Homo sapiens: one gene and its partners. The protein of the gene in region 1 purifies or fractionates together with the protein of each later gene. This does not show direct contact. Each region holds a gene or a part of one and is shown in the gene's direction. Other genes may lie near its edges. The genes, in order: WBP1, ATP12A, KCNIP2 and SLC39A11.

Region 1 (7,813 bases):
GCTAATAAATGGTGAAACTGGGATTTGATAATAGGCTTGTCTGACTCCAAAATCCCTTTTCATAATCACATACTACATGACTTAATCCTGGATTCCCCAATATAATTGCTCATTGATTCTTGATAATTTTATCACTGAAATGTAAGAGACTTTTCACTGCTGTTACCTTGCTCAGACACTCATATATATTTAGATATATGTATATAGGTGTTATTTTCTAATTATAAACGTGATATATATTGGCTGTAAGAAAATACATTACATACCTAAATAGTGAAAGTTCCTCAACCCCAACTTCTACAGTTAACCAACATTAACAGGTATACATTCCTCAATTTTTTCTATGTATTTGCTAGTATATTATGCTTTTAAAAATCAGATCACATAATCTTGAAATTTACTTTTTTTTTTTTTTCTTTTTTTTGAGACGGAGTCCCGCTCTGTCGACCAGGCTGGAGTGCAGTGGCGCGATCTCGGCTCACTGCGACCTCCACCTCCCGGGTTCAAGCGATTCTCCTGCCTCAGCCTCCCGAGTAGCTGGGACTACAGGCGCGTGCCATCACGCCGGCTAATTTTTTTTTTTTTTTTTGTATTTTTAGTAGAGACGGGGTTTCATCGTATTAGCCAGGATGGGAAATTTACTTTTCTTATTTCGTGTATCAGCACATACAAACCTACCTGTTTTTATGTCTTTTTTAAAATGAGGTAAAATATACACGTTTTATACAAAATTCAAAAGGCACAAGAGGGTATAATCATAAAAAAATAGGTCGCCATCCACCCTTGTTCTCTAGATGCTCATCAGCAAATGACTCTTACCAATTTCCTAGATAGCCTTCTGGGGCGCCTCATTTCTTTTCCAAGCTGCTTAACATCCCACTGTATGGATACACCAATTCATCAGGACACTTAGATTGTTTAAATTCTGTGTCAATCTCATTAATTACTTACAACTCAACTTTTCTTAGCAATATGGTGTTCCGCATTGTACAGCTGCACCGTAATTCATTTATTCATTTCCCTACTTATGAAAATTGAAGTTTAAATACCTAAACTGCATCTGCTCTTAGGGCACTCGTGCTGTTTAACCATTTCGGCCATTTTGTCATCAATATAGTTTATGTATTCCTCCACCCAACTGTGAGTTCCTCAAGGACAGGGGCGGTGTTCATATTCATCTTTGCATCCTCTTAGACTAGCTTCCCGCACTTGGTCTAGTGTATACATTCACCAAACTTGTGTTCAATAATTGACTCATCCGCGCTGAGTTCTGAAAGCTAGCGTGGGGAGGCGGAGCCAGGGGAAAGCCCTGCCCATTTGGGCTGTCCCGACCTCAGAGGGACCGGAACGTTCGTTGGAAGGATCCTCGTTTCTCAGGGACGATTTTGGACGCGAAGCGTGCCCCGCACAAGGATGGTTGCCATGAACCGGAAGTAACTGGTTGTTTTGCTGGCTCCAGTTTTTCCGCGGGGCGGAAAAGGCGTGTCTGCGTGTGTCCCAACCATTTCTAGTCCCCTTTCCTCGCAGGACCTCATGAGTAAGCTGTGGCGGCGTGGGAGCACCTCTGGGGCTATGGAGGCCCCTGAGCCGGGTAAGCGCGAATAGATCAAGCAATTTAGGTCGTGTTAGAAAAGAAGTCCCGTTCTTGCTCCTCGGAGAGTCCAGGGTACTTCGGCCACAGGTGGCAAGGAGAAAGGCGGTGCTGTTGTTATGGTAACAGCGAGTACTGCGGGAAGGGTGGGATCCAGTAGGGGCTTAGGTTATTCAGGGCTTCCCCTGCCACCCTCCGGCCAAACACTGTCGACAGGCTTTCCTTCCACAGGAGAAGCCCTGGAGTTGAGCCTGGCGGGTGCCCATGGCCATGGAGTGCACAAGAAAAAACACAAGAAGCACAAGAAGAAACACAAGAAGAAACACCATCAGGAAGAAGACGCCGGGCCCACGCAGCCGTCCCCTGCCAAGCCTCAGCTCAAACTCAAAATCAAGCTTGGGGGACAAGTCCTGGGGACCAAGAGGTGAGGCCAAGAGGGTCATAGTTTTATAAGGGGAACTTTAGGAGCAGAGATAGTAGTTAGAAGCCGACTGGGCTTTCTAGAAGACCGAATGGACACTGTGACTTCAGGGTCCAGATTTAGGCAGCAAGAGTCTAAGAGGGTGGGGAAAGTTGGGTGTAGCTACGGAGTAGGAGGAGGAGACGCTTGCTCATTTTAAAGAGTAGTGTTGCTTCTCTGCAGTGTTCCTACCTTCACTGTGATCCCAGAGGGGCCTCGCTCACCCTCTCCCCTTATGGTTGTGGATAATGAAGAGGAACCTATGGAAGGAGTCCCCCTTGAGCAGTACCGTGCCTGGCTGGGTGAGGATCTGGAGGTGGGGAAACTGGGTTTCTTATTATACCCGCCTAAAGAAAGAAGGTTGGTTCTGAAATGGGTTAGGATTTTCCATGTCCCAGTATTAACTCAGCCAAATTAGGGTGCCCCATCTGAACAATTCTGTTTTTCTTTCTCCAACTTCCTTCCCAGATGAAGACAGTAATCTCTCTCCCTCTCCACTTCGGGACCTATCAGGAGGGTTAGGGGGTCAGGAGGAAGAGGAGGAACAGAGGTGGCTGGATGCCCTGGAGAAGGGGGAGCTGGATGACAATGGAGACCTCAAGAAGGAGATCAATGAGCGGCTGCTTACTGCTCGACAGGTATGTTGGTTCATTGTTTATTCACTCACCAAATGTATACAGTATTGAGAACTCTCCACGACCCACGCACTTTGCGTGGCATTGGGGATATCGATAGTAGAGAAAAGACAAAGTTTCTGTTCTCCTGGAGCTAGTATTCTAGTGTGTGTGTTGGGGGGCTGGGAAGTAAATAAGTAAATAATTTCAAAAAGCTATATGGTTTATGACAAAAAGAAAAGGGTGATGAAATAGAAAGTGGCGTAAACAAACAGATAGAAATGATGGAAGAGAGACATTAGGGTAGTTAGAGAAGGCTTCTTTGAAGAGATAACATTTGCAATACCAGAAGAGCTTTTGAGCAGAGACCAGCAGGCGCACAGACCTTGAGACTGGAACATGTCTAGCAAAGGAGAAGAAAAAGTGGACAAGCCACTGAAGGGCTGTACGCAGAGAAGTGACATACTTGGTTTACATTTCAATAGATTACTTTGGCATCTTTGTAGAGAATGAATCTTCGTGGAGACAAGAGATAGAAGTATGGAGAACAACTAGGAAGCTGTTGAAGTAATCAGCTGAGAGGCAGTGGTTGCTTTAACCAAGACGAAAGTGGTGGAGATGGAGAAAATCAGATGAATTATGGCTATATTTTGGAAGTAGATACTTGTGGGGAGGGGAATGGAGAGAAAATATATCAAGGCTAAGCCTGGGATTTTGGCTTGAGCAGTTATCCACCTGATACTCTCTATTGAGATAAGATTAAAAATAACAACAGACCTCTGGGAAAGCTGGTACAGTTTTGGTGCACAGGTCAGGCAGGTAACATTACTGATGCTTCTCCCCTTGAGAGATAAGGACCTAAAGCTAAATGTCAGGAGATCTGGGAGGAGGCAGTATTTATGAAGAGGAACCTATGGAAGGTGTCCTGGAGAGGGTGCTCATTAATTAATATCCCGCCTCCGAAGGCCTGCACTGCTCAAGACCCTGCCTTCCATGTCCCTTCTTTCCCCTCCCCCGATCTGGCCGACCTCGCCTCTCCATCTTCCTCCATTTTCAGACAGCACCCCGTCTCTGTCTCTCCCTAGCGAGCTCTGCTCCAGAAGGCGCGGAGTCAACCTTCCCCTATGCTGCCGCTGCCTGTAGCTGAGGGCTGCCCACCTCCCGCCCTCACAGAGGAGATGCTGCTGAAGCGCGAGGAGCGGGCGCGGAAGCGGCGGCTCCAGGCGGCGCGGCGGGCAGAAGAGCACAAGAACCAGACTATCGAGCGCCTCACCAAGACTGCGGCGACCAGTGGGCGGGGAGGCCGGGGGGGCGCACGGGGCGAGCGGCGGGGAGGGCGGGCTGCGGCTCCGGCCCCCATGGTGCGCTACTGCAGCGGAGCACAGGGTTCCACCCTTTCCTTCCCACCTGGCGTCCCCGCCCCCACGGCAGTGTCTCAGCGGCCATCCCCCTCAGGCCCGCCGCCGCGCTGCTCTGTCCCCGGCTGTCCCCATCCGCGCCGCTACGCTTGCTCCCGCACAGGCCAGGCACTCTGTAGTCTTCAGTGCTACCGCATCAACCTGCAGATGCGGCTGGGGGGGCCCGAGGGTCCTGGATCCCCCCTTTTGGCTACGTAAGGCCCTTAACCCGGACTCTGCGCCCCGTCCCATGCCCGCTCTTGAGTATCTTCCCCACCCTATTAAATTACATCCGGTGCTTCGGCTTGTACAGAACTGGGGGAGTGGGATGTTGTGGGCAGACCAGTCTCCGGTATACACGTATTTTGCCCCTGTCGGAGCTTGCGTCGATGCCTGGGGCTTGGAAACCACCGCAAAAAACCAGGCTGCAAACCAGCGGACCGACTTTTGGGACTCCGCCTCTTCCAGCCGGGATTACCTGGCGTGCTTCGGCCTTTGGCGTCATTCCGAAAACATACCGCAAGCCAATCAGCGGCAACCTTGCTCTTCGGGGCGGCTGTTCGTTGGTTGATATGCCAGAGCCTGTTCTGTTGTCTGTATTGGCTATTGCCGCTGTCAGTCAGGGCCGTGGGTCGAACCTTCACCTACTCTTTGTCTGTACAAGCTCTTGTTGTCTGGGTGAGCGGCGGAGGCGCTGCTGTGGATTGGTCACAGGGAGAAACCTCTGATCTGTTCCTATTGGCCCGTCCGTCAAGGGACGATGATGATTGGTAGGGCAGAGCAATCTGAGTCCTAGTTGGTGGAGTTCTGCCCGGATGGAAGCTCCGGCCGCGGAGTGATGGTGGCCTCAGCGAAGATGGGCCGGGCAGGGACCATGGCGGTGGCAGCAGAGGTGGCAGGGGCGGGGCGGCTGGCGGTAGAGGAGGCTGTGGTCCTCAGGGGGCTGTAGGTGGAGGTATGGCTCGGGCCAGCAGCGGGAACGGCAGCGAGGAGGCCTGGGGGGCACTTCGGGCGCCGCAACAGCAGGTATCCCAATAGCTCCAAAACCTATCACGACAGCCATTTGTCTCTTTCCCCTTTCCTTGTCCCTTCCTTTTGGGGGTGGGGGAGGAACTCACGGAGCCAAAGGTACTGTGAAGTTCCTAAACATGTCTCTTCCACTCTTTGTCTAAACTTTGTAACGTAGATGCAGCTGACTTTGCCTGTAGCCTCATAGAACCCATCCCATGGCTGCAGTGGAAGCTTGCGGTGGCTCTCCAGTGACCAGAGGCATAGTGAGGTCCCAGGGAGGCTCCCTCTGTCTTGCAACAGTTATTTGTGATCTTTTTCTATGTGCCTATTGTCACAACAGAGTCCGGCAGCGTCTTCTCTTGAGGGAGCAATTTGGAGAAGAGCTGGAACCCAGACTCGCGCCCTGGATGCCATCCTTTATCATCCACAGCAATCCCATCTGGTTGGGAGCACTGCTCTGGGTCTCACACTGCCCCTCCTCTATCCTAGGGAGCCTGAGGCCCAGGGGTGGAAAGATCCAGTTGCGGGTGGGGGGTAGTGAACCGCGCAGGATAATGAAAGCAACTTGCTTTGGAAATGACCTACCGCTACCCGTTGTCTGAGACTGAGATTATCTCAGACTGTCTTCTGGCTTCTGCCAAAACACTCCCTTAACAGAAAGCACCGAGGGGATGGGGGTAGGGGGGTTGGGGAGAGTGAGGCTTGAGTGTGAAGGAAGTCTCATATATGCAGAGCTGAAATCTCCCTCTTTGTATGTCCACACTTTTGTCTTGTTCTCTAGACTGATTCTTGCTATTCCAAATCCTCTTCCACGTTGACAGCCCTTCAGATATTTCAACACTCCTCTCAGCATCCTCCACTTCCCCCATCTCTCCAAGCTGAACTTGGTTCACAGGGTGGGATTGTGTATGTGCATGCAGGAGGTGGGGGTGGACAGTGCCCTGGGCTGGAATCCCCCTTAGTTCTAAGTGCCTCCTTGCCCGCAGCTTCGAGAGCTGTGCCCAGGAGTGAACAACCAGCCCTACCTCTGTGAGAGTGGTCACTGCTGCGGGGAGACTGGCTGCTGCACCTACTACTATGAGCTCTGGTGTAAGTCTCCAAGAGGGCTATTTCCAGGTCCCTGTGTCCACCCTCCCTTGGACCTCAGAATTTCGGCCTTCAGGGCCCCTTCTCTGCATGAAAGATGCCTGAGTTGCTCCCTCCTTGCCTCTTGCAGGGTTCTGGCTGCTCTGGACTGTCCTCATCCTCTTTAGCTGCTGTTGCGCCTTCCGCCACCGACGAGCTAAACTCAGGCTGCAACAACAGCAGCGGCAGCGTGAAATCAACTTGTTGGCCTATCATGGGGCATGCCATGGGGCTGGTCCTTTCCCTACCGGTTCACTGCTTGACCTTCGTGAGTGACTTGATGCCCTGGGTCAGCTACCAGTGGCCCTCCCCAAACCAGAACCCCAAATCGTCTCACATTCCCTTTTCCACACATTTCAAAGTATTTTTCCCTAATATAAAAACTAGCACCCTATACCTGGTTGTCTTCAACCAATCATGCCAATTTTCTCCCCTGCAGGCTTCCTCAGCACCTTCAAGCCCCCAGCCTACGAGGATGTGGTTCACCGCCCAGGCACACCACCCCCCCCTTATACTGTGGCCCCAGGCCGCCCCTTGACTGCTTCCAGTGAACAAACCTGCTGTTCCTCCTCATCCAGCTGCCCTGCCCACTTTGAAGGAACAAATGTGGAAGGTGTTTCCTCCCACCAGAGTGCCCCCCCTCATCAGGAGGGTGAGCCCGGGGCAGGGGTGACCCCTGCCTCCACACCCCCCTCCTGCCGCTATCGCCGTTTAACTGGCGACTCCGGTATTGAGCTCTGCCCTTGTCCTGCCTCCGGTGAGGGTGAGCCAGTCAAGGAGGTGAGGGTTAGTGCCACCCTGCCAGATCTGGAGGACTACTCCCCGTGTGCACTACCCCCAGAGTCTGTACCGCAGATCTTTCCCATGGGGCTGTCTTCCAGTGAAGGGGACATCCCATAAGTAGTTTTGAGAGGGTGGATGGGTTACTTGCCCACCAGAAACAGCCCTAGTCCCAACTCCTTGCGTTCCTTTGGCCCCTCCCTGCCTACCTAGAATCTGCCTGAAAGGGCTGGAGAGGGGCAGTATTGGGGGACTGTGCTAGCTTTACCCCCGCAGGACATACACAGGAGCCTTTGATCTCATTAAAGAGATGTGAACCAGCTACTTGTGGATTTGGGTGGACTAAAGCTCAACTCACTGCATTGCACTTGACCTGACTGGGTTTGAAGGGGACAGGTTATGGCCACTTGACCCCACCTTCCCTGAGGACAGCAGACAGTGCTGAGGCCTGGACTGACCTAAGGCCTCTTGGTGAGGCAAATCTGGCAAAAGCAATAGAGTTCAAAATGTTTTTTCCAATTTATTTAGAAAAATAGACTCTGGATTCACATTCACCCCAGGGCTATGTGGGATGACAGCAAGGAGACACCTGAGATGAAATGAGGAAGGTTTGAATTACTGGTATCCAAGGGGCTGGGGGCAAAAGCCAGAAGCCTTTGTCCCTTCAGAGCCAGAGTGGCATGAGTGTCTTGGCTCCCCTCCTCTCCCTCCCTTCAGTAGTCTTCAGCCATGGCCAGTAAGACAAGGCTGGTCCAGCCGTGGAAAGGGCGGCAGCCCATGCCTCGCCCATCGCGGTCACTGTACTGCTCCCAAAGAAAGCCTGTAGCCTGGTACT
Region 2 (7,022 bases), on another chromosome or scaffold:
CACTTTGGGAGATCGAAGAAGGCAGATTGCTTGAGCCCAGGAGTTCAAGACCAGCCTGGGCAATATACCAAGACCTTATCTCTACAAAAAAAACAAAAAACGAAATTAGCTGGGCATGGTGGCACATACCTGTAGTCCCAGCTACTTGGGAGGCTGAGGTGGGAGGATTGCTTGAGCCTGGGAGGTCGAGGCTGCAGTGAGCTGTGATCGTGCCACTGCACTCCAGCCTGGGGCACAGAGTGGGACCCCGTCTCAAAAAAAAAAAAAAAAAAATTTAAGAGAGAAAGAGAGAAAGAAAAAGAAAAGGCCTATATTTTAGAAAGTGATAGAGCTGGGAGGTTTTCTGTTTGGTTTGGTTTTTGTTGGTTGGTTGGTTTTCTCAATGTCTTTACTTGATCATTAAAAAAAGCAGCAGCAGCAGCTGGTAACCCTATTTGCCCTATACTTCTTTTTGTACTCATCTTTGATACCCAGAAGTCTAAGAAATACTGATTTGTAAAGAACTGTTTTACCCAAAATTGTAGCACTTTTCTTTGCAACTTATTTTCTCCCAAACACTCCAGCTTCCTGAGATTCCTCTTGAGTGCTTAGAAGAGTACCTGGCTTATCAGAAGGGCTAGATAAGAGTTAGTCCTTTTATTCTTGTATATCGATTTTTTTTGCATATCTTATTAGGATGGATCTAGAAGTAGAATTGCTGGGTCAAGAGCATTCCTATTAAAATGGAGACTCCTGTGACTCGGCTGTCTTCCTGAAACATTATACGTGGAAGTGTCCACTTCCTCACACCCCGCCATTTTCTATGACATCCAAGCAGGAAAACTGGGTGGACAATGAGGTGAGGAGGTGCAGAAATTCCTGTCGCCTCCTCCCCTCCTGAGCTCAGAATAGTTTGGGTCTGAAAGACGGCTGCTCCCCACAGGGAGGTAGAGGAGGTGAGATGCAGAGGCTCGCAGCCCCCTAACTCTCACGGGCACCCTGGGAGATCTTGTTCAAGGCACAAGATTTCACACGCTGACGGCCACAACTAGCCTGCCTAAAGCAGCCAGTTTTGCTTGAAAGATGAGCTCCACTTATCCAGAGTGGGTGCCCCACTCTGGGCTGGGGCCAAGTCTAGAGCTCTTCGTCTTACTTGGCCACAGAAAGAAAAAGGGCGGAACATGCTGAGGATGCCATTGTGCCTCTTCCTCCTTTACATTTAATGGACCAGTAGAGAAGAAGGAATGCGTTTCACCTTTCTGTAAGTAACACGCTCAGTTCATTCCTTCCCAGCTCTCCATCCACGAGATGGATGACCCCCACGGCAAGCGCTTCCTCATGGTGATGAAGGGGGCCCCTGAGCGCATCCTAGAGAAATGCAGCACCATCATGATCAACGGCGAGGAGCACCCACTGGACAAGAGCACTGCCAAGACCTTCCACACAGCCTACATGGAGCTGGGCGGGTTGGGCGAGCGTGTGCTGGGTGAGTGCGGCGGCAGGGCCCTGCCCATCACCTGGTGGGCACAGAGATGAGGCAGGCGCCTTGAGGACCTGTGACCTAGCCCAGTGGCCATGGCATCCACGTGAAGCATGTAAAGGAGAACATGATAAGCAGGATGGGAACAAGGAGAGGATGCTGTGTGACAGCACCAAGCAGGGTGGGATGGCCTCCAGAGAGGCAAGCTCAGGGAAGACTTTATGGAAGGAGTTAAATTTCAAACTGGGCCTTAAGTGACTGCATTTGAGGGGAGATAGGGGAAAGTATCCAGGGCCCAGGGAACAGCACAGGCCAATCACAGAGGCAGAACGGCGTGGGGCACATTGGGTGCTGCCAGCAGGTGAGATGGCACTGTCACAGAAACAGGGTTCAAGGGCTGGACTGGAGGTCATGAGATGGAGGTCTTGAACATCTGGGTGAGGAGCCAGGTTTCATCCTGCAGTCAGTAGAGAGCACTGAGGGCTGTGCCACTAGAGTGAGCTGGGCAGTCGCAGGGCTGGGGAAGACTTTATGGAAGGAGTTAAATTTCTTTAACTTCTTTAAATGTCTTTGGCGGCAGCAGGGAGAGGAGAGATGCACATCTCCATAGGAAGCAGCTGCCCTTGCTCAGGCAAAAGGGATGGGAATTTTTTCAGGGTGATGGGAATGGGAAGGAGAGATCAGGGCAAGAGACTTCATAGAGGTAGAGTTTGGTAAGATTTAGAACCTATCAGAGAAGGATAATGTTTAAAAATGATTAAGCTTCCCATTTAACGACTAGGAAGAGAGTGATGCCAGTGATGCAGACAAAGTGTCAGGAAGGAAGGAACCTTAGAAATGCAACAGGAGGAGGACCCAATGGGGGTGCCTGCGGTGTTGTCAAAGGGGACAGTGTGTCCTGTTGTCAGCACCAGGGCTGGCGGAATGGTGCCCCATCAGGACCACAGAATGACAAATTCAAGGAAACAGAAGTGTATGGTTGACGATCCGGCTCATTAAACACCATGGAAGTCCTCACCAATACAGATGCAGTCTGTGGAATGTGTGTTTCTAAAGGCTATTGGAGTTGGCAAATCAGATAAAGCATATAAATGAGATGGTGATGCTTTAGGCATCCAATAACCCACAGTACCGGGTATTCTACACGGGATCGATGCCCACTTGCGTTTGATTTCTCAAAGCCTGCTCCATTGACATTTGCAAAGCAGTGGGCCAGGCTGAAAATAAATTGGATGTGAAAGCTGATCACACAATCTTGGAGGTCCCACCAGACACAAGAGTCCCTTCCACCTCAGCCTATGAGAGGCTGATGCCTTCTGAGAAAAGGATGGCTCGGCCCCATTCCTGCTGGCCTTTCTCTTGGGCTTATCTTGATCTAGCACTGAACTTTGTGCCCCTCCGCTGAACCCCCTTGTTCCTTCACATGCTGTTTTCTCTGCTGAAAATGGCCTTCCCACCTCCACCCTCCCTTTTTTCCCTAGAAATCATCTTTGCCCCTCTCAAGCTTCACCTCACATGTGACCTCCTTGGGGAAGTCTCTCCTAATCCTCCAGGCAGCTGAAATGTGTCTCTGCCCTGAGATGTACCCTATGCTTGATCCCTTTAACTCTGTGCCCCGCTAAACTTCAGAAGTCGAGACTGTGTATTGCCCTAGAACTTGGCAATATAGCAAGATATATTTCTAGAACACAGAGCCTAATGAGCTCACAGTGAATTATATTTGGATGAAATATGTCTTTCCTAAAAAAATGCATTATGGAGTTGAAGAAATTAAACAATTCTGGCTTATTCTAATGTATTGGTAAAACAGCAGAGGACCAAGGTGTATGAGCATGTTCTCCTCTTATTTTTTTTCGTTTCCTATTCTAGTTTCACTGACTCACTAATTCATCTGTATTACAGGTTTCTGTCATCTCTACCTGCCAGCAGACGAGTTTCCAGAAACCTACTCATTTGACATAGACGCTATGAACTTTCCGACCTCCAACCTCTGTTTTGTGGGACTCTTGTCAATGATCGATCCCCCTCGGTCCACCGTGCCAGATGCAGTCACCAAATGCCGGAGTGCAGGGATCAAGGTGGGAGTTATTTTCCTGACTCAAGAAGTTCTTTCTTTATGTCGTGTTCCTTTCTAATAATGGTTTTCATAGCAGATGGTCAGTATTTAGGTGTCTTCAAGTAAATATCATAATTCCTATTTTATTTCTAGTTTCACTGTGCTAAGGTTACTGAAACTGTCCCACAAAAAGAAAATGATTGTGTCTATGTGGAATGAACCACATAAACAGTAAATGCAATGAGAAGAATCTCCTAGTGCCTTGAAGTGACCATATCTCGCCCTAGTCCATGGTAGATACTAAAAGGCTTTATTGGCTGGGCGCAGTGGCTCATGCCTGAAATCCCAGCACTTTGGGAAGCTGAGGCAGGCGGATCATCTGAGGTCAGGAGTTCCAGACCAGCCATGGCCAACATGGTGAAACCCCGTTTCTACTAAAAATACAAAAAAATTAGCCAGATGTGGTGGCACACACCTGTAATCCCAGCTACTCGGGAGGCTGAGGCAGGAGAATCTCTTGAATCCAGGAGGCAGAGGTTGCAGTGAGCCGAGATCACACCATTGCACTCCAGCTTGGGCAACAAGAGTGAAACTCTGTCTCAAAAAAAAAAAAAAAAAAAGAAAGAAAGAAAAGAAAAGAAAAAAAGAAAGAAAAAAGGCTTTATTACTCAGTCTTGAGGCTCAGCCCCCATAATCCATGTTCATCATTACTAGGTTAATATTAAGACTGTTGAAGTAACATGGGGCTACCCCCAAGTAGACACTCACCAGCCCTTTCACAAATAAAGTGGCATCAAAGGGGAAGGGCTTCCTTTCATGTCAGAGGAGGAAGCGTATGAAGCTTAGGAGCAAGGGTAGACCCAATGGGATTAGTGTTTCCTCCAAAGACAGTTGTCTCGTAGATCCAGAGCTGCCACTGTAATCACCAACCACGTTCTCCCAGGGCACTACAGAGTAGGTATTACTGAACCATCCCCACTTTGGCCAACCGAGTTCTTCATTACCCGTGGGCCTTCTCGTTGTCTTTGCTCTAGGTTATTATGGTTACTGGTGATCATCCCATCACAGCCAAAGCTATTGCCAAGAGTGTGGGGATCATTTCAGCCAACAGTGAAACAGTGGAAGACATTGCACATCGCCTCAACATTGCTGTGGAGCAAGTTAACAAACGGTAAGCACAGGAGCAGCATAGTAAAAATTCCAGTTTATACCCATGGGGCCCCACTGGCTCTAAAGAGCTGCACTACTTGGAACAAATCAGCTTTTTGCTCTCAGAGTTATGCTAGGCTTGTTTGAGCTATTATTTGCATATCCATGTATTCACTCTAATTTCACTGAGCAGCTAATATGTGCCAGGCACAGTATTGATACCATGAAATGACCCTTTATGTGTTCCTTGTTTGAAATTTCAAAATCCAGTGTGCCCTGGGCACAAAACCTATGTGCCCAATTTAGAATAAGAAAAACTGAAACAAAGGGTTTATGTGAAATTACTTGCCATAGATGCAGTTGCATAATTTGGAATCGTAAGAACCCTGTGGGTTGTTTCATGCACCCTCCTTGGTAAGCATCTTGGGTATTTATCCACCCGGTTTCATAACGTGTAGCTATGTAAACACACCCTTCTTTTTTATTTGGTAATAGATAGAATGGAAGCTTCCTAAGGAAAGTTTTTTTCCTTGTTTCTCCTAATTCTTTTAATCATGTTTATCCTTATTCTTTTAATCATGTTCATCCAACTGTACATTCACTCATGTATTTGTTCTTTCAACAAGTATTTACTGCGTGCCAACTATATACCAGGCAAGACCTGGAACTACAGTAGCAAACTGAACAATACTATCCACACCGTTGGGGAATCTTTCCATCGAGCCAAGGAGACACAAACAAAGCTAACAATGATGTGGCCAGTGTAATGAGGGAGCCACACAAGGCTAGGGAGCTGGGCATGCAGGAGAGTGGCCTGGACTGTGCCTGGTCTCCATGAGTCAAAGACTCCGAATTCTCAGGTTGAGAAGTAATGTTCATTAGCTGGGTTATGTTTTCACGCATGCGGGAGATGAGGGAAAGACCAATGCACCTCTTCAGTTTCCCCAAGCACTTAGGTCTTTTAGGGACACACAGCTGTCAGGTCATAACAAATTACCACGTTAGACAACCAACCAGGGTTCCCGCCTCTGGGCACAGCAGCAGTACCTGAAGTCTAAGAGTCTTGCAGTGCCCTTTAGTATACATAACATCCCTCTATGAAAACAACTTTGGGGCTTGTTTATTTGTTTGGTTTTGTAAGATAATCGGATTATACTTTTTTTCACTTTAGAATTTTAAACAAATTTTGTTTGTTTGTTTGTTTGTTTATTTAGACAGAGTCTCTCTCTGTCACCCACGCTGTAATGCAGTGGTGTGATCTCAGCTCACTGCAATCTCCACCTCCTGGGTTCAAGCGATTCTCCTGCCTCAGCCTCCTGAATAGCTGGGATTACAGGCGCCCGCCACCATGCCTGGCTAATTTTGTATTTTTAGTAGAGACGGGGCTTTGCCATGTTGGCCAGGCTGGTCTCAAACTCCTGACCTCAAGTGATCCACCCACCTTAGCCTCCCAAAGTGCTGGGCTTACAGGCGTGAGCCACCACACCTGGACTAAAAGAAATTTTTTTAAGAGTAGTCAAGTGCAGTAGTGAGAAGAGGGGAAAGAGTAGAAGTTTGATCTGTAACTGACTGTGAACAATCAGTTGAGCTAATTCACTACTACCTTCAGACCAGCCGAGTCTTCTTTTTTTAGATACAAGGTGTCCTGTCAGATCACCCAGGCTGGAGTGCAATGGTGTGATCATAGCTCACTGCAGCCTCGACCTCCTGGGTTCAAGGGATCCTCCCCTCTCAGCCTCCCAAGTAGCTGGGACTACAGGCTTGTGTCACTGCACCCAGCTTCATTTTAGCAGATTTTTTTTTTTTTGAGATGGAGTCTTTCTCTGTTGCCTAGGCTGGAGTGTGGAGTGCAGTGGTGAAATCTCATTGCAGCCTCCACCTCCTGGGTTCAAGGGATCCTCCCCTCTCAGCCTCCCAAGTAGCTGGGACTTTAATTTAAAATTTTAGCAGATTTTTTTTTTTTTGAGATGGAGTCTTTCTCTGTTGCCTAGGCTGGAGTGTGGAGTGCAGTGGTGAAATCTCATTGCAGCCTCCACCTCCTGGGTTCAAGCAATTCTCCTGCCTCAGCCTCCTGAGTAGCTGGGGTTACAGGCATGTGCCACCACACCCGGCTAGTTTTTGTACTTTTAGTAGAGACGGGGTTTCACGATGTTGGCCAGGCTGGTCTTTAACTCCTGACTGCAAGGGTTCTGCTCGCCTTGGCTTCCCAGAGTGTAGAGATTACAGGCGTAAGCCACTGCGCCTGGCCCATTTTAGCAATTTTTAATGAAAGTTGTATATAAGATACCTTATTCCTGCATCTTCTCAATTGCTTCTTTTTTATATTTGCCCTTCCTTCCCTACTTAGGAAGATTTGTT
Region 3 (7,022 bases), on another chromosome or scaffold:
GGGGATAGTCGCCGTCAAGTGGACAAGATTTGCCCAGAGTTAGGAGGTCATTCTCACCACTTAAATGTAGGGTTTTCAACCAATCATGCGGGATCCCAGTCGAAAGAGCGGGACTATATCTCTCCCGTAGGCTTTCCCAGGAATTTTAAGGCGTTAGAGAGTCCTGGAAGTGTTTACTTGGGGTCTAACCTGATAGAGATGAGTCCGGAGTCCAGGAAAGGGGCGCAGCGGGACCGAAGTGGGGGGGGGGTGCGGGGGGGGCTCTTCTCGAAGCATTCGGCTGTAGCCAGCGTATGGTGGTAGTCTGTGAACCTGCCGCACCGAGACAAACACAAATAGAAACAGTTATGAGAGCAAGGAATTTGGAGCCAGGAGACAGAAGGCAGTGGGGCACAACTCTGCTGCCTCTTCTTTGCCACCCCAATACACTGGCCTCTTTCTCCTTCCTCCTGGCTTTCTTCCATTGGCCCAGGAAGTGTGGGGAGTTGCCATGACAACTCTGTCCTCTTACCCCTTCGGCTCTTTATGCCAAAATGGTGGGGGCGGGGTGCAGGGTGCGGGGAGGAGTGCGACAGGCGGAGAAAGGGGGGCTGAAAGGGGGCAATAAAAGATACGGTTCATTCCCCATCCAGCTCTTTTCTCAAAACCCACATGTGCCTGCCTGGCCTCCCCGCCAGAACCCAGAAAAATGCTCCCTGAGAAGGCTGAGTCCGCGCCGCCCCTCCCCGCCACCCCCCCCCCCCGTCCAGGAACTTTGGGGGCGGCTGCTTCACATGATGGGGCCAGGGTGAGCTCCTCTCGTGCGGCCAGGAGAACATGGGAAGGCTCCAGGGTTTCGATCCTATGCCTGCCGGGCCGGCCCTCCCGCGCCGCCCACGCGGGCCTACCCGGGTGAGGGCGGAGACCGGACCGCCCCGGGGCCTGGGGGTGGAGCTTAGACGCCGAGCTCGCCGCCAAACCATGAACCGATGCCCCCGCAGGTGCCGGAGCCCGCTGGGGCAGGCAGCGCGATCCCTCTACCAGCTGGTGACTGGGTCGCTGTCCCCAGGTATGATGAGGAAGGGAAGGGAGGGGCAGGATCCTTCAAAAAGTGAGCGAAGTGGGTTAGGAGCTCCGCAGAGGTAGGGAGGGAAGGGCCCCTCAAATAGATGGAGGGAGCAACATCCCTCCAAGGAAAGGGCTTCCAAGACGAGATCCTGGACAGAAGCGGAGCAGGGGATGGGCCTCCTTACTGAGCAGGAGGAAGACAGCGCTCTTCAAAGAGGAAAGGAGAGGGGCATCAAGGTCCCTCACAATGGTGGAGGGGGCGGGGCTTCTCACCGAAGGCAGAGGAGGGGGCCTTAACTGAGGGGCAGGGCGCCTCCCAGGGATGAAAGGAGGAGGCCTGCAGCAGAGCAGGGAAAAAGTTCAGTCCTTTCCTGCATTTCTTGGCTGAAGGGGTCTTAAGATGAAGGGTTCAGTGTCCAGAAGGAAAAAACCCTGAGATGGGCCTAGACCAACATGAACTCAGCTAGCAAGTTCATACATGACATGGGACTGATAGACTTGTGTGGCTTAAGGATTGTATGTCTCTGTTTTCTCTCTCTCTGGGAGTGTGTATTAATGGGATTGTGCATTACTAAGTTGTGCATCACTGGGCTATGTATGGCTGAGTCTGTGTCTCCCTGGGGTTGTGATCACTGGGATTCTGTGACACTGAGACTGTGTGTACCTGGAGTTCTGTACTTTAGGACTGGGTTGAGGGTTCCTGAGCCTCTAAGTTGGTTGTGTAGCCTTCGTGAGGTTGTACCTTGGTGTGAAATTTGTGGAGTGTATGAGGTGTGGATTGTTGAGTATCCCACGGCACTGCTGAGGTGTATGCACATCTCCACTTGCATTTCCTTATGACTGCTTGGGCAGGGCCCATAGAACGCAACGTCTCCTCTGTACCTGACCTCAAACAGACCAAAACAACCTGGTCCTGTGGCATTCTGAGATCTGTCATTTTCTGGCTCTCTCCATGGGTATCCACTTGAGCCCCTGGAGTATAGATAGGGCCTGTGGCCTCTCCTTGCCATCTGTCCCCCAAAAGGAGGGTAGATGGATGGTCCTGAGCCAGAACCATACCTGGAAATCTTCTGGGGAGCATACAACCTCCAAGCCCCCTGCTTGGGCCTGTCTCCAGTGACAGATGGCTGGAGCCAGGCAGGGCCAGCTCTCAGTCATTGCAGGCATGACTTCCAGGACCCAAAATAGCCCCAACGTCTAGGGAGGTCATTAATCACTCGATGCAGCTGGGGGCTGCAGTGTCTTTGGCCTAGCTGGGAATGGTGTGGGTCTGGGGGACTGAGAGAAGGGCTTTGAGGTCTTCACTGGCTGGGTTAACAGTGGCGGTGGGGGGTGGGACAAAGCTAAACTGGGGAAGGTGGGACAGTTGCATAGAGTGGGTTCCCCCACAAGGCAGTGTTACTCACATTTGAACTGGGGGAGATAAATAAATAAATGATAGGAATATCTCTGTGGTAAGATTTGAGGGATCTGGGGAAGGCCCACCTCATGCCTCGAGATGGTTTTCCCTTGAGTTCCCACTCTGCCAAATTGCTTCCACAGAGATTTTACTTTGAGTGAAGAGCTAAATTCGTGGCACAGGGATGCTTGGGGAGGATGGATCTGGCAAGTTTCTCACTGAACCCGAGGACTTGAGAAGTCTCTGAGTGGGGAGAAGGGACAGCCTGGAAAAATAACTCATCCTTTCACTCCTGACAGACTCTGCCACAGGATGCCTGGCTGATTTAGGACCATGAGTCCTGGCAAGGCTGGGTCAAGGTCTCTGAGAGTTGAGAGTGGGAGTTAGGAAAAGGAGGGGCCAGGGCCAGGGCCAGGTCCAGGGCAACTGGCTGCAAGTTATCAGTAGCAGGGAGCAAGAAGGGGCTGTTGTGGGGCCCCTTTCCATTCAAATAGTCTGGCTTGGCATTCAAGGTTTCATGGAATTTGACCCTTTTTGATTTTATTACCCATAGCTCCCTTACCTAAACTAAGCTGTAGGCCCTAGGATTCCTTGACACCCCGCACATATTGGAGAGACTGCCTGAGGGAGCTGACAGATCACTGACTCTGGTTAAACAACTCATTATTATTATCATTATTATTATTATTGAGACAGAGTTTTGCTCTTTCAGTCAGACTGGAGTGAAGTAGCGTGATCTCAGTTCACTGCAACCTCCGCCTCCCAGGTTCAAGCAATTCTGCCTTAGCCTCCTGAGTAGCTGGGATTACAGGCAAGCACCATCACGCCTGGCTAATTTTTGTATTTTTAGTAGAGACGGGGTTTCACCATGTGAGTCAGGCTGGTCTTGAACTCCTGACCTTGTGATCCACCCGCCTCGGCCTCCCAAAGTGCTGGGATTATAGGCGTGAGCCACTGCACCCAGCCAAACTCATTCTTAATTAGCATGTCAGCTGTTATCTTGGAAAAAAAATCACTCTTTTTTCCCAAGATAAGCAGGGAGCTTATCTTGGCGGGGAGCTTCAATTCCTTCATCTGCAAAATGGGTATACTATCACTCACTCTGACCATGTCAGCTGTAAAAACAGGAATAATAGATCCTACCTCTCAGGTTTATTATGAGGACTAAGTGAGATACTACATGTAAAGTATCCAGGACACAAAATGTGCTGGATAAATATTATCTTTGTTTATTTGTTTATTTTGAGATGGGGTCTCACTTTGTCATCTAGGCTGAAGTACAGTGGCACAATCATGGCTCATTGCAGCCTCAAACTCCCCACCTTAGCCTCCCAGGTAGCTGGGACTATAGGTGTGTGCCACCACGCCAGGCTAATTATTATTATTTTTTTTTTGAGACAGAGTCTCGCTCTGTTGCTCAGGCTGGAGTGCAGTGGCGTGATCTCGGCTCACTGCAACCTCCACCTCCTGGGTTCAAGCACTTCTCCTGCCTCAGCCTCCCAAGTAGCTGGGATTACAGGTGTGTGCCACCACGCCCGGCTAATTTTTGTATTTTTAGTAGAGACAGGGTTTCACCATTTTGGCCAGGCTGGTCTCAAACTCCTGACCTCGTGATCCACCTGCCTCGACCTCCCAGAGTGCTGGGATTACAGGCATGAGCCACCTTGCCCAGCCCAGGCTAATTTTTTGTAGAGACAGAGTTTCGCCATGTTGCCCAGGCTGGTCTGGGACTCCTGATCCAACCTTTAGGGATTGGCAAGCAATCCCTAAATAGACTTTTTCCTAGGGGAAAGGAGTGGAACAGACCAAGCCTATTTGAGGCCAGACGCGGTGGCACACGCCTGGAATTCCAGCACTTTGGGATGCCGACGGGGGCAGATCACTTCAGGCCAGGAGTTCGAGACCAGCCTGGCCAGCATGACAAAACCCTATTTAAAAATATAAAAATCAGCTGGGCGTGGTGGTGCACGCCTGTAATCCCAGCTATTCGGTGGCTGAGGCACGAGAATCGCTAGCGCCACCGCACTTTAGCCTGGGTGATAGAACGAGACTCTGTCTCAAAAAAAAAAAAAAAAAAAAAGAGAAAAAAAAGCCTGTGTGAAGCGTCATCTTCCCACCTCTTCCCTGGATGGGGCAGGTCGGGGAGAAGGAAGGTGTATGGTACTGTGTGAGGTTGGACGCGTGCCCCCCGGTGGTGGCTGTATAGAACTGCAGATCAGCCAACCTCGACTGGGGCCTTAGGGACTGGCCCCCACCCCACAAATTGGGCTGAGACACAGTCATCCCAGAGCTGGACAAGAGGGAGGGCTCCTTCTGGGGCCAATCCCCCTAAATTGGGCCTCCTGGCTGGGCCAGCTTTCTAAGAAGGGAGCCAGTGTAGTGTGGTGGTTTAGAGTGAAGGCTGAGTCAGACTGGGTTAAAATTGAAGCTCTGATCTTGAAGATTTGCTTAACTTCTCTTTGACTTAGTTTCACCACCTGTAATATGAGGATAATAGTATGCCTTCATAGGCTTATTGTGAAAATTCGGTGTTACAACACCTGTAAGCACATAGTGCATTATCTAGTACATAGTGAATGCTCAGTCACCGTTAGCCAGCAGCGGTAGTAATGGTGTTACTAACCCAGAGGCCCTAGTCTTGTGGCTCATTGGCTCTGTAGGCCTCTCCCCACCCCTTTACACACACAAACACCCCACCAAGAAGAAGCAGGGAAGAGGAGGGAGGGACTCCGGGGATGCTGGCTGGGAGGGGTGGCTCCCTTAGAAGGTTCAGATTTCCCTCCTACAGCAGCTGGGCTTCTCCATCAGCTCAATAACAGTTCCTAAGGAGCAGGCAGGGCTTTAGCATCTCCCGGATGAGGTCCCAGCCACATACGGAGCCAGCACAGTCCCCCCTCCTCTCCCAAGAAGCTTGGGTTTCTTGACCCCAAAGGCAGCTGCAGTAAGTCCCCTCCCCAGAGGGTCCTGATGGGGTTAAGTGGCCTTTTTCTGCCTAGGCTACTACTGTATCTTATCCCCCCTCCCTTGGGCCTCAGTTTCACTGCCTGTGGCCTGTGGGAAGAGAGTGCTTCCCTCCTCACAGTCTCCATGGCAACCAAATCGATATTGGTGATATCCTCCTAGCAGGAGAGGTCACTGCCTTCTCCGCCATTATTCTCATACAATTCCATGCCAATACAATGACAAAACAGTAGACCCACCCTCCAAATTATACAACACATCCATACCTAACAAACTTCAGACCCACATCCTACAACCCTACTAAAACACAGGAACCTCACTCCCCATGCACACTCACAAATACTTCAACACACTCCTACACATGCAGACCATAGACACCCAGCTCACATACCCATATACGCAAGAGTCAAAATGCATAACCATACGCCAAACACACACCTCTGTGACAGGTGCACAGTCACGTGTAAGCACACAAAGACACACATAAGAGGAGACATATGCACTGCCATACTGACAAACACAGGAATATACACACAGGAAAACACCTGGCCACCACAACATATTCTGACCCATGCATCTGATTACTTATACATGTGCAGATGGTGGTTTCTCATGCACATACACCCTGCCCTTCCCTGCCTTCTCCCTAAGCTCAGCTCCTCCCTCTGCCCCTTCCCTTTGGCACAGAGTAGCCACAGGATGTCTAGGGGAAGCACTTCTCAGGGACAGAGGCGGGTCACTGCTCCCTCCCTCTGGCCCATATCTTGGCCAAAAGTTCCCAAGGAGGTGCCAGTCCAAAGGCTGAGGTGGCCCTGCGAAGAGGAAGAGGCGGCGGCTGTGGTTGGGAGGCTTGTGGGGCAGAGGCGGGGTGATGGGGGAGAGGAAGGAGATCCTGGGAGGGAGAGTGGGAGGGAGGCTGCAGGCAGTCCTACTCAGGCTGGGGAGTCTGAGGGGGAGGTGGTGTGAGGCGGTGAACCGGCGTATCTGAACCTGGGCCCTGTAGGGGCCATGCCCCAGGCCCACCATGAACCTGGAAGGGCTGGAGATGGTTGCTGTGCTCGTGGTCCTCGCTCTGTTTGTCAAGGTCCTGGAGCAGTTTGGCCTCTTTGAGCCTGTCTCCTTGGAAGGTAATCCAGGTGTCCTGGCATGTCTGAGCTGCTGGCTGGTGGGGCAGCTGCCCCACAGCACTAGGGAGGGTGTTTGTCTGTCTTCATGACTGGGGCAGGGATGAGCAGGTGAGTGATGGCACAGGGATCTGGGAGGTGAGTAGGGGTGCTTGGGGGATACAACATCTGGGAGGGGTGAAGAGGAGGCCTCAAGGAGTAGATATGGAGGGAGGAGGGAATCTGGGGGACCAAGGTGTCAGGAGGTGATGAGGGGTGCAGTGTGGGAGGACTGGGGTGTGGAGATGAGGAGGTGAGGGGATTCTGGGCGATACCAGGAGGGGTCTGGAGATAGGGAAGGAGTGTCTAGAGTAGAGGAGGGAGGTTCTAGGGATCCTGAGATAACAACGGATTTCTGGGGGGTCCTTTTTGGAGTCAGGGGCCCACCACGGTGCCTGTGCATCCTCTCCACACCTCCATCTGTGCAGTGTAGCTTATGGGGTGTGTGGGCA
Region 4 (7,022 bases), on another chromosome or scaffold:
GGCTGAAGCTTGGCTGCCTGTGATTGGTTGAAGCTCAGCCGCTTGTGATTGACTGAGATCTAGCTATCCTATTACAAAAAATATATACTCCTAATGAGATTTTCATTTGTATACATACTAAGTTAGGTTGTAGTTCACTGCGAAGCAACTCAAAGTACAGCCTCAGACCAATGGCCTTTTGCTTATTTAATTTAACAGACACCTGAGTTATGCTTGCTGGGTTTTCTCTCCCAATAAAGGGACCCTTCATTCTGTCTGTGCCATCACGTGTTTAAGATTCACTCAAGACCTATCTCCTCTAGAAAGCCTTCCCCACAAATCCATCCCATGCTGTGAACTGAAAGCTGGATGCTCTCTCCCACTCTTGTCCTCCCAATTTCAAATCCACACAATTTGGCTCCATTATGAATAAACAAATAGCCCAGGGGACCATGGATATTTAGAATAAGGTTCTAAGAATGACATTCTTCCAATATAAGCCAATTTGTAAAGGCATTTTTAAAAGGAAGGTTTGCTCAGAAAACCCAAGGGCTGGGTGCTACGGATGGCCCATGAATGTCTGTGGCACGTGGGCTGCAGTTCTGCCCTTCTCTCTCCTGTCTAGCTGCATGGTTTCCCATCTCTGCTTGTTGATGTATATCTGATTCCTTCTGATTGTCTGTCCAGCCGCTTCCCTCGTTCCATTGTGGCAGAGCTGCTCGCGCATCACGTGATTTTTCAGATTTAGCTTGCACGTTGGAGTGGCCAATTCTCCCTGGAGAGGGATTCTGATTGGCTGAGCCAGGCGTCTGAATTGGTTCCCATAAATCAGTGTGACCAGGAGAGCAGGGTCACATATTATGTAATTCTGTACGGCTATGGGAGAGGGAACATGATACTAACAATAACCATCAATACAATCAGCACTTAGTACATTCTAAGTACTTTCAGACATTGTTGCATTTAATCCTCACAAAACGCTTGTGACATAGGTAATGCTATTATTCTAGTTTTACGAATCAGAAAACCACTGCACAGAGAGGTGAAACAACTTATTTGGCACTACACAGCTGGCCAGTGGCTGAGTCAGGAAGGGAAGCAGGCAGCATGGTTCTGGCATCTGTGTCTCTAATCATGACTCAACATTGCTTGTCTTAAACAGGCATTGCTAGGATACCACATCTTCATCTTTTTTATCCTTCTTGGTACCTATGCATTGGGCACTGAATGCCTGTTCAGTGATTTTTTTTTTCTTTTTCTTTTTTGAGACAGGGTCTTACTCTGTCACCCAGGCTGGAGGCCAATGGTGTGATCACAACTCACTGCAGCCTCAACTTCCCGGGCTCAAGCCATCCTCCCATCTCAGCCTCCCAAGTAGCTGGGACTGCAGGTGCATACCACCACGCCTAGCTAATTCTTTATTTTTATTTTTTGTAGAGATGGGATTGTGCCATGTTGCCCAGGCTGGTCTCGAACTCCTGGGCTCAAGCCATCTGCCTGCCTCAGCCTCCCGAAGTGTTGGGATTTCAGGCGTGAGTGACCATGCTCAGCCTAGTCAATGAATTGTTCGCTGAATGAATGGATGCCTGAGTGAATGAGAGAACACACAGAAGCATGCATAGTCTACAGGAAGTTTGGAATGGGCAATTGTGACGTGGGTCCTTTTTGGAGAGGAGTGAAGATGGCAGTCCCAGCTACTTGGGAGGCTGAGATGGGAGGATGGCTTGAGCCCGGGAAGTTGGGGCTGCAGTGAGTTGTGATCACACCATTGCCCTCCAGGCTGGGTGACAGAGTAAGACCCTGTCTCAAAAAAGAAAAAGAAGCTTCTTCCTGCTGTAGCTTGCTGGAGAGTTAACGTGCACATGTTCAAAGCGCTGTCTTTCCCCATCTCTCTTTTTTTTTTTTTTTGCTCAGACAAGAGTGAGAATGGTGAGGCATATCAGAGAAAGAAGGCGGCAGCCACTGGCCTTCCAGAGGGTCCTGCTGTCCCTGTGCCTTCTCGAGGGAATCTGGCACAGCCCGGCGGCAGCAGCTGGAGGAGGATCGCACTGCTCATCTTGGCCATCACTATACACAACGTTCCAGGTGAGGTCTTGCCCGTGAGCGTGACAGCCACTGCCTGAAGGTAAAGTCATTTGTCAGCACAGTTGTCTGGCTGGAAAAGGGGAAGGGGCAATTGTGACGTGGGTCCTTTTTGGAGAGGAGTGAAGGTGGCAGTACAAATCTTTCTTGGCTTTATTTTTTGATCGTCATAGATAGATCATCATATGTGAAAACTTCCCATTCCGGTTAGTTTAAACAACTTCTACTTCCTTTTTGTTTACATATTTGTTACCAAGTTATTTGGAGCATAAATTCATAACTGTTACATGATTGCTGTGGAGGGTATCTTTTATAAATACTGGGTATCTCTGGTTCTGCTTAATGCTATTTGAAAACATAGTTGACCCTTGAACAACACAGATCTGAACTACGTGAGTTCACTTACACTCAGATTTTCTTCCGCCTCTGCCCCCTGAGAGAGCAAGACCAACCCCTCCTCTTCCTCAGCTGACTCAATGTGAAGAGGATGAGGATGAGACCTTTATGATGACTCACTTCCACTTAATGAATAGTAAATATATGTTATCTTATGAATTCCTTAATAACATTTTTTCTTGAGATTGCTATATTGTAAGAATACAGTTTATAATACATATAACATACACTATATGTACTAATTGACTATGTTATTGGTAAGACTTCTGGTCAACAGCAGGTTATTCATAGTTAAGTTTTGGGGAAGCCAAAAACTCTCTGCAGATTTTCTACTGCGCAGGGAACCAGCATTCCTAACGTCTGCATTGTTCGAGGGTCAAGTCTATTGAGTTCAGTATAATTTGGCACTGATAATTGCCTTACCTGCCTTCTTTATGTGGGCATCTTTCTGAAATGTTCTTACCAATCCTTTCCTATTTAGCATTTTAGAGTAATTTCTTTTATGTCTTTTTTTTTTTTTAAGACAGAGTCTTGCTCTGTCCCCCAGGCTGGAGTGCAGTGGAGCGATCTTGGCTTACTGCAGCCTCTGCCTCCTGGGTTCAAGTGATTCTCCTGCCACAGCCTCTTGAGTAGCTGGGATTACAGGTGTGCACCACCATGCCTTGCTAATTTTTTGTATTTTTAGTAGAGATGGGGTTTCACCATGTTGGCCAGGCTGGTCTTGAACTCCTGACCTCAGGTCATCCACCTGCCTCGGCCCCTCAAAGTGTTGGGACTACAGGCGTGAGCTACCACGCTGGCCTGTTTTATGTCTTTAGATGTATTTTAATTGGAAAAAAGGACATATTAATGCCTTATTTCAAAAACAATGAATGTTTCTTTTAGAGCAACTAGAAAACATGATTAAGCATAGGAAATGATAAAGATATTTTTAAAAATAAATAAACTGAGGGAACCTGAGCAATTTGGGATGCATTTTGAAATTCCAACTCTCTCACTTCCTAAGGAGGTTATCTTGACGAATTGCTTGAACTCCCTGAACCTTGGTTTTCTCATCTAAGAAATGGGGATAATGCCACAAGTGGCTTACTTAGAGAATTAAATGAGATGCTAAATATACATACAGCTTTCAGTACAGTGCTTGGGACTTACGAGCGCATTGTTGGCATCGATGATACTCCTGCTGCCTTTTCAGCCATGATTTCCTCGATCTTGAGATCTTAAACATGCTGACCCACCTTTTGTTGTTTGGGAATTCGAGTTTGAGCAATAATCTTCCCCAGGGAGCATCCTTGGGTGATACATTTTCTGAGTCCTTGCAGAGTTCATGGTGCCAATCTGTTACTCTAATACAGGAGCAAGAACTTGGCTGGGCAAAGCTTTCTAGTCATGACATTTTTCTCTACAAAGCTTCTGCAGATGTTGATCCCTTGTCTTCTGGCTTTAGTATTGTGGAAGCAAAAAGCATGGCCAAAGTGAGTCTGTTCCTCTGTATAACTTGATATTGTTTTGCTTGCACAATGAAGACTTTTTTTTGTCGTCTTTAAAGTGTGAAAATTCTAATACATATTATATATTCTAGTATATATTAAATCTGCCGAAAGCACTATGTGTTTAATTACTTTTTAAGCTCAGATATTTCTCTAGATAAGAAGCACATTCCTCTGTTATTTCTATCCTAATCTTAGGAATGTCTATCATACGATCATAGGTAGGCCAGTTTTCCCAACATTTTCATCAGTTTATGTGTCTCCCTCATTCCCCTCTTGACCCTTTTCTTTGAGTTATGAATAAGCTTTTTTTAGTTGGTTTTCCAATTTTTTTTTTTTTTTTTTTTATGAGACAGAGTCTCGCTCTGTCGCCCAGGCTGGAGTGCAGTGGTGCAGTCTCAGCTCACTTCAATCTCCACTTCCCGGTTCAAGCAATTCTCCTGTCTCGGCCTCCCGAGTAGCTGGGATTAAAGATGTGTGCCATCATGCCCAGCTAATTTTTGTATTTTTCGAAGAGACGGGGTTTCACCATGTTGGCCAGGCTGGTCTTAAACTCCCGGCCTCAAGTGATTAGCCCACCTCAGCCTCTCAAAGTGCTGGGATTACGGGCATGAGCCACAGCATCTGACCCTGTTGGTTTTCTAGATCTTGGTATTCAGTATGTCTTGAGATAAAGATGGGGTCTTATATGGACCTCACTGCACAAAGATGGCCAAAGTGGGTTAGCCTTGGTGGAAGACCCTGCTCGTGCCCACCCCGTATCTTAAAGAGGTCATTGAAAGACCCCTTGGTCCCCTGCAGAGGACTACTTAGGAGCCCTGACAGCAACTTGTAGCCTGTTAAGTGCTAATAGTTAGAGAAGAGAGGTTACTTGTTTTTCATTCATAATAGTAGCTGTCTTTCTGCCATTTATGACCCCTTCTTTAGCCAATTGAGGAAGAGTAAAGATCTGCCCAGTGGGTTTAGTGTTAAATAAGGTAACTACACTGAGGTGTATTACGGCAACTATTTCTCTGAAGAACAAAAATGTGGTCTAAGGTCCAGACTTTATAGCAATGGAATGAGTATCCAACTTTCCTCTAATGGACCCTTTTATATACCACACCTGCCACTGTACTTGGGTGATTCATTATGCTCAGCTGGAATTATTTCCTGGCTCATCCCAATGGAAGGCCAGGATGGTTCAGAGTTTACTTTCTCAAATGTTTGTTGACTCCAGTGACAACTTGGAATAAAGCCAGAAACAGGAGGAAGATGTGTGGAATGACAGCAATATTTGATGATCTTAAATGAGCATAAATTAAAATCTTACTTCTTCCCTGACAGGAGACCCTATTCTGTGTCTTTGGAGTTTCCAAGTCTAAGTTCAGCCTTTGTCACTTCTATGGTGATGCAAAAGTATTTTTTCAAATAAGGATTGAGGCCAGGTGCAGTGGCTCATGCCTGTAATCCCAGCACTTTGGGAAGCCAAGGTGGGCGGATCACTTGAGGTCAGGAGTTTGAGACCAGCCTGGCCAACATGGCGAAACCCCGTCTCTACTAAAAATACAAAAATTAGCTGGGAGTGGTGGCACATGCCTGTAATCCCAGCTACTTGGGAGGCTGAGGCAGGAGAATCACTTGAACCCAGGAGGCAGAGGTTGCAGTGAGCCAAGATCATGCTACTGCACTGCAGCCTGGGCGACAAAGCAAGGCTCTGTCTCAAAAAAAAAAAAAAAAAAAAAAAAAAAAAGAGAGAGAGAGAGAGAGATTCATTGGTTTGAAAGATGGATTCTCTTATCTCCACACTCCATCCTGGGTGACACAGCGAGACTCCGTCTCAAAAATAATAGTAAAATAAAAAATAAATTGAAATGAGGATTGAGTGCCTTCCAGGAATCTCAATTGAGTTAGATTTCACCAGAAGCATGGTGGTAATAGTCACTGGTTTCAGTAAACTGGAGGACAGCTGGCTTGACTGGATGGAGAGGTTTGAAGGGACATTTCTTTCCCAGTCTTGTCTTTTATTTATTATATTTGAGTATTGTATTCCATGTACTTGGGTTATATCAGTACTAAAACAGACCAAGATCTCTGGCCTTCTATAACCAATATTATAGCAAGGTGAGATAGTCGATGAACATCATCATAATAAATGAATTTTATATTGTGTTAGAAGGTGGTTAGTGATTTAAAAAAAGAAAAAGTTCAACAGGGCAGAGGAGACGGTAGAGTGTTAGAGGAAGAAATTGCCATTTTAAATAGAGTAGGTAGGGAGGGGCTCCTTGAGATGTCCTTGAATTTGAGTCAGTCATGCAGATCTCTGGGAAACAGTGAGTGTTTTAGGCAGAGGGAACAGCCAGTGCAAAGGCCCTGAGGCAGGAGCATGTCTGGCCCCCACAAGGAGTAGCCAAGAGTCCACTGTGGCCACAGCAGGGTGAGCAGCAGGGAGAGAAGTACAAGGTGAGGGCAGGGATGTCAGCCCCTCCTTTAGATGGAACTTGGAGGCATAAGAATGTTTGTTTTTGCTCTGTGTGTGATGAGCCATTGCAGAGTTTTGAAGAGGGTGTGTATGACTTGACTTGAGCTTTGAAAGTTTGTTTCTCTTTAGATACTGAATTGAGATGGGACTTAGGAGAGGTAAGGATGGAAGCAGGGAGGCCTATGTAGAGGCCACTGCAGAATCCAGATCAAAGATGATAGTGGTGCAGACCAAGGTGGTCGTGCTGGATGTGGTGAGAAGGGATCCCTTCCTGGGTCCCGATTGAAGGTGGAGCCAATGGGATTTGCCGATGGATTGGATGTGGGATATGAGAGAAAGCGAGGAGCCAGGAGGGACCCGGAGGTTTCAGGGCTGCCCAGCTGCAGGGATGGAATTGCCATCAACTGAGACGAGGAAGGCTGCAGCTCCAGGGGCTTTAGGGGGACTATCAGGAATTTGTTTTTTGATTGTGAGGTTTGATTGCCATTAGACATTCAAATGGAGATACTGACTAGACAGCTGGATACATGAGTTTGGAGTTGGCTTGCAAAGTCTAGCTAGAGTTATAGATTTCTGAATCATTGGCCCATGAATGTTTTTTGTTTTTTTGTTTT

The links.
Region 2: the proteins of WBP1 (region 1) and ATP12A purify together in Homo sapiens (affinity purification with mass spectrometry; 3 studies listed by BioGRID and IntAct, with this or other methods). This does not show direct contact.
Region 3: the proteins of WBP1 (region 1) and KCNIP2 purify together in Homo sapiens (affinity purification with mass spectrometry; 3 studies listed by BioGRID and IntAct, with this or other methods). This does not show direct contact.
Region 4: the proteins of WBP1 (region 1) and SLC39A11 purify together in Homo sapiens (affinity purification with mass spectrometry; 3 studies listed by BioGRID and IntAct, with this or other methods). This does not show direct contact.

The regions. Positions count from the first base shown.
Region 1 is NC_000002.12:74,453,584-74,461,396, forward strand, and holds WBP1 (WW domain-binding protein 1), read left to right. Parts: upstream 1-4,854; 5' UTR 4,855-5,019; coding exon 5,020-5,088; intron 5,089-6,059; coding exon 6,060-6,162; intron 6,163-6,289; coding exon 6,290-6,466; intron 6,467-6,637; coding exon 6,638-7,098; 3' UTR 7,099-7,298; downstream 7,299-7,813. Other genes in the region: INO80B (INO80 complex subunit B), read left to right, coding at 1,534-1,591, 1,823-2,015, 2,235-2,353, 2,520-2,689, 3,751-4,281; MOGS (mannosyl-oligosaccharide glucosidase), read right to left, coding at 7,692-7,813.
Region 2 is NC_000013.11:24,697,386-24,704,407, forward strand, and holds part of ATP12A (potassium-transporting ATPase alpha chain 2), read left to right. Parts: intron 1-1,272; coding exon 1,273-1,465; intron 1,466-3,361; coding exon 3,362-3,537; intron 3,538-4,549; coding exon 4,550-4,686; intron 4,687-7,022. UniProt on the Homo sapiens protein: The catalytic subunit of a H(+)/K(+) ATPase and/or Na(+)/K(+) ATPase pump which transports K(+) ions in exchange for Na(+) and/or H(+) ions across the apical membrane of epithelial cells.
Region 3 is NC_000010.11:101,833,779-101,840,800, reverse strand, and holds part of KCNIP2 (A-type potassium channel modulatory protein KCNIP2), read left to right. Parts: intron 1-929; exon of another isoform or gene 930-960; coding exon of another isoform or gene 961-1,048; intron 1,049-6,377; exon of another isoform or gene 6,378-6,431; coding exon of another isoform or gene 6,432-6,534; intron 6,535-7,022. UniProt on the Homo sapiens protein: Regulatory subunit of Kv4/D (Shal)-type voltage-gated rapidly inactivating A-type potassium channels. Modulates channel density, inactivation kinetics and rate of recovery from inactivation in a calcium-dependent and isoform-specific manner.
Region 4 is NC_000017.11:72,844,676-72,851,697, reverse strand, and holds part of SLC39A11 (zinc transporter ZIP11), read left to right. Parts: intron 1-1,893; coding exon 1,894-2,064; intron 2,065-7,022. UniProt on the Homo sapiens protein: Zinc importer that regulates cytosolic zinc concentrations either via zinc influx from the extracellular compartment or efflux from intracellular organelles such as Golgi apparatus. May transport copper ions as well.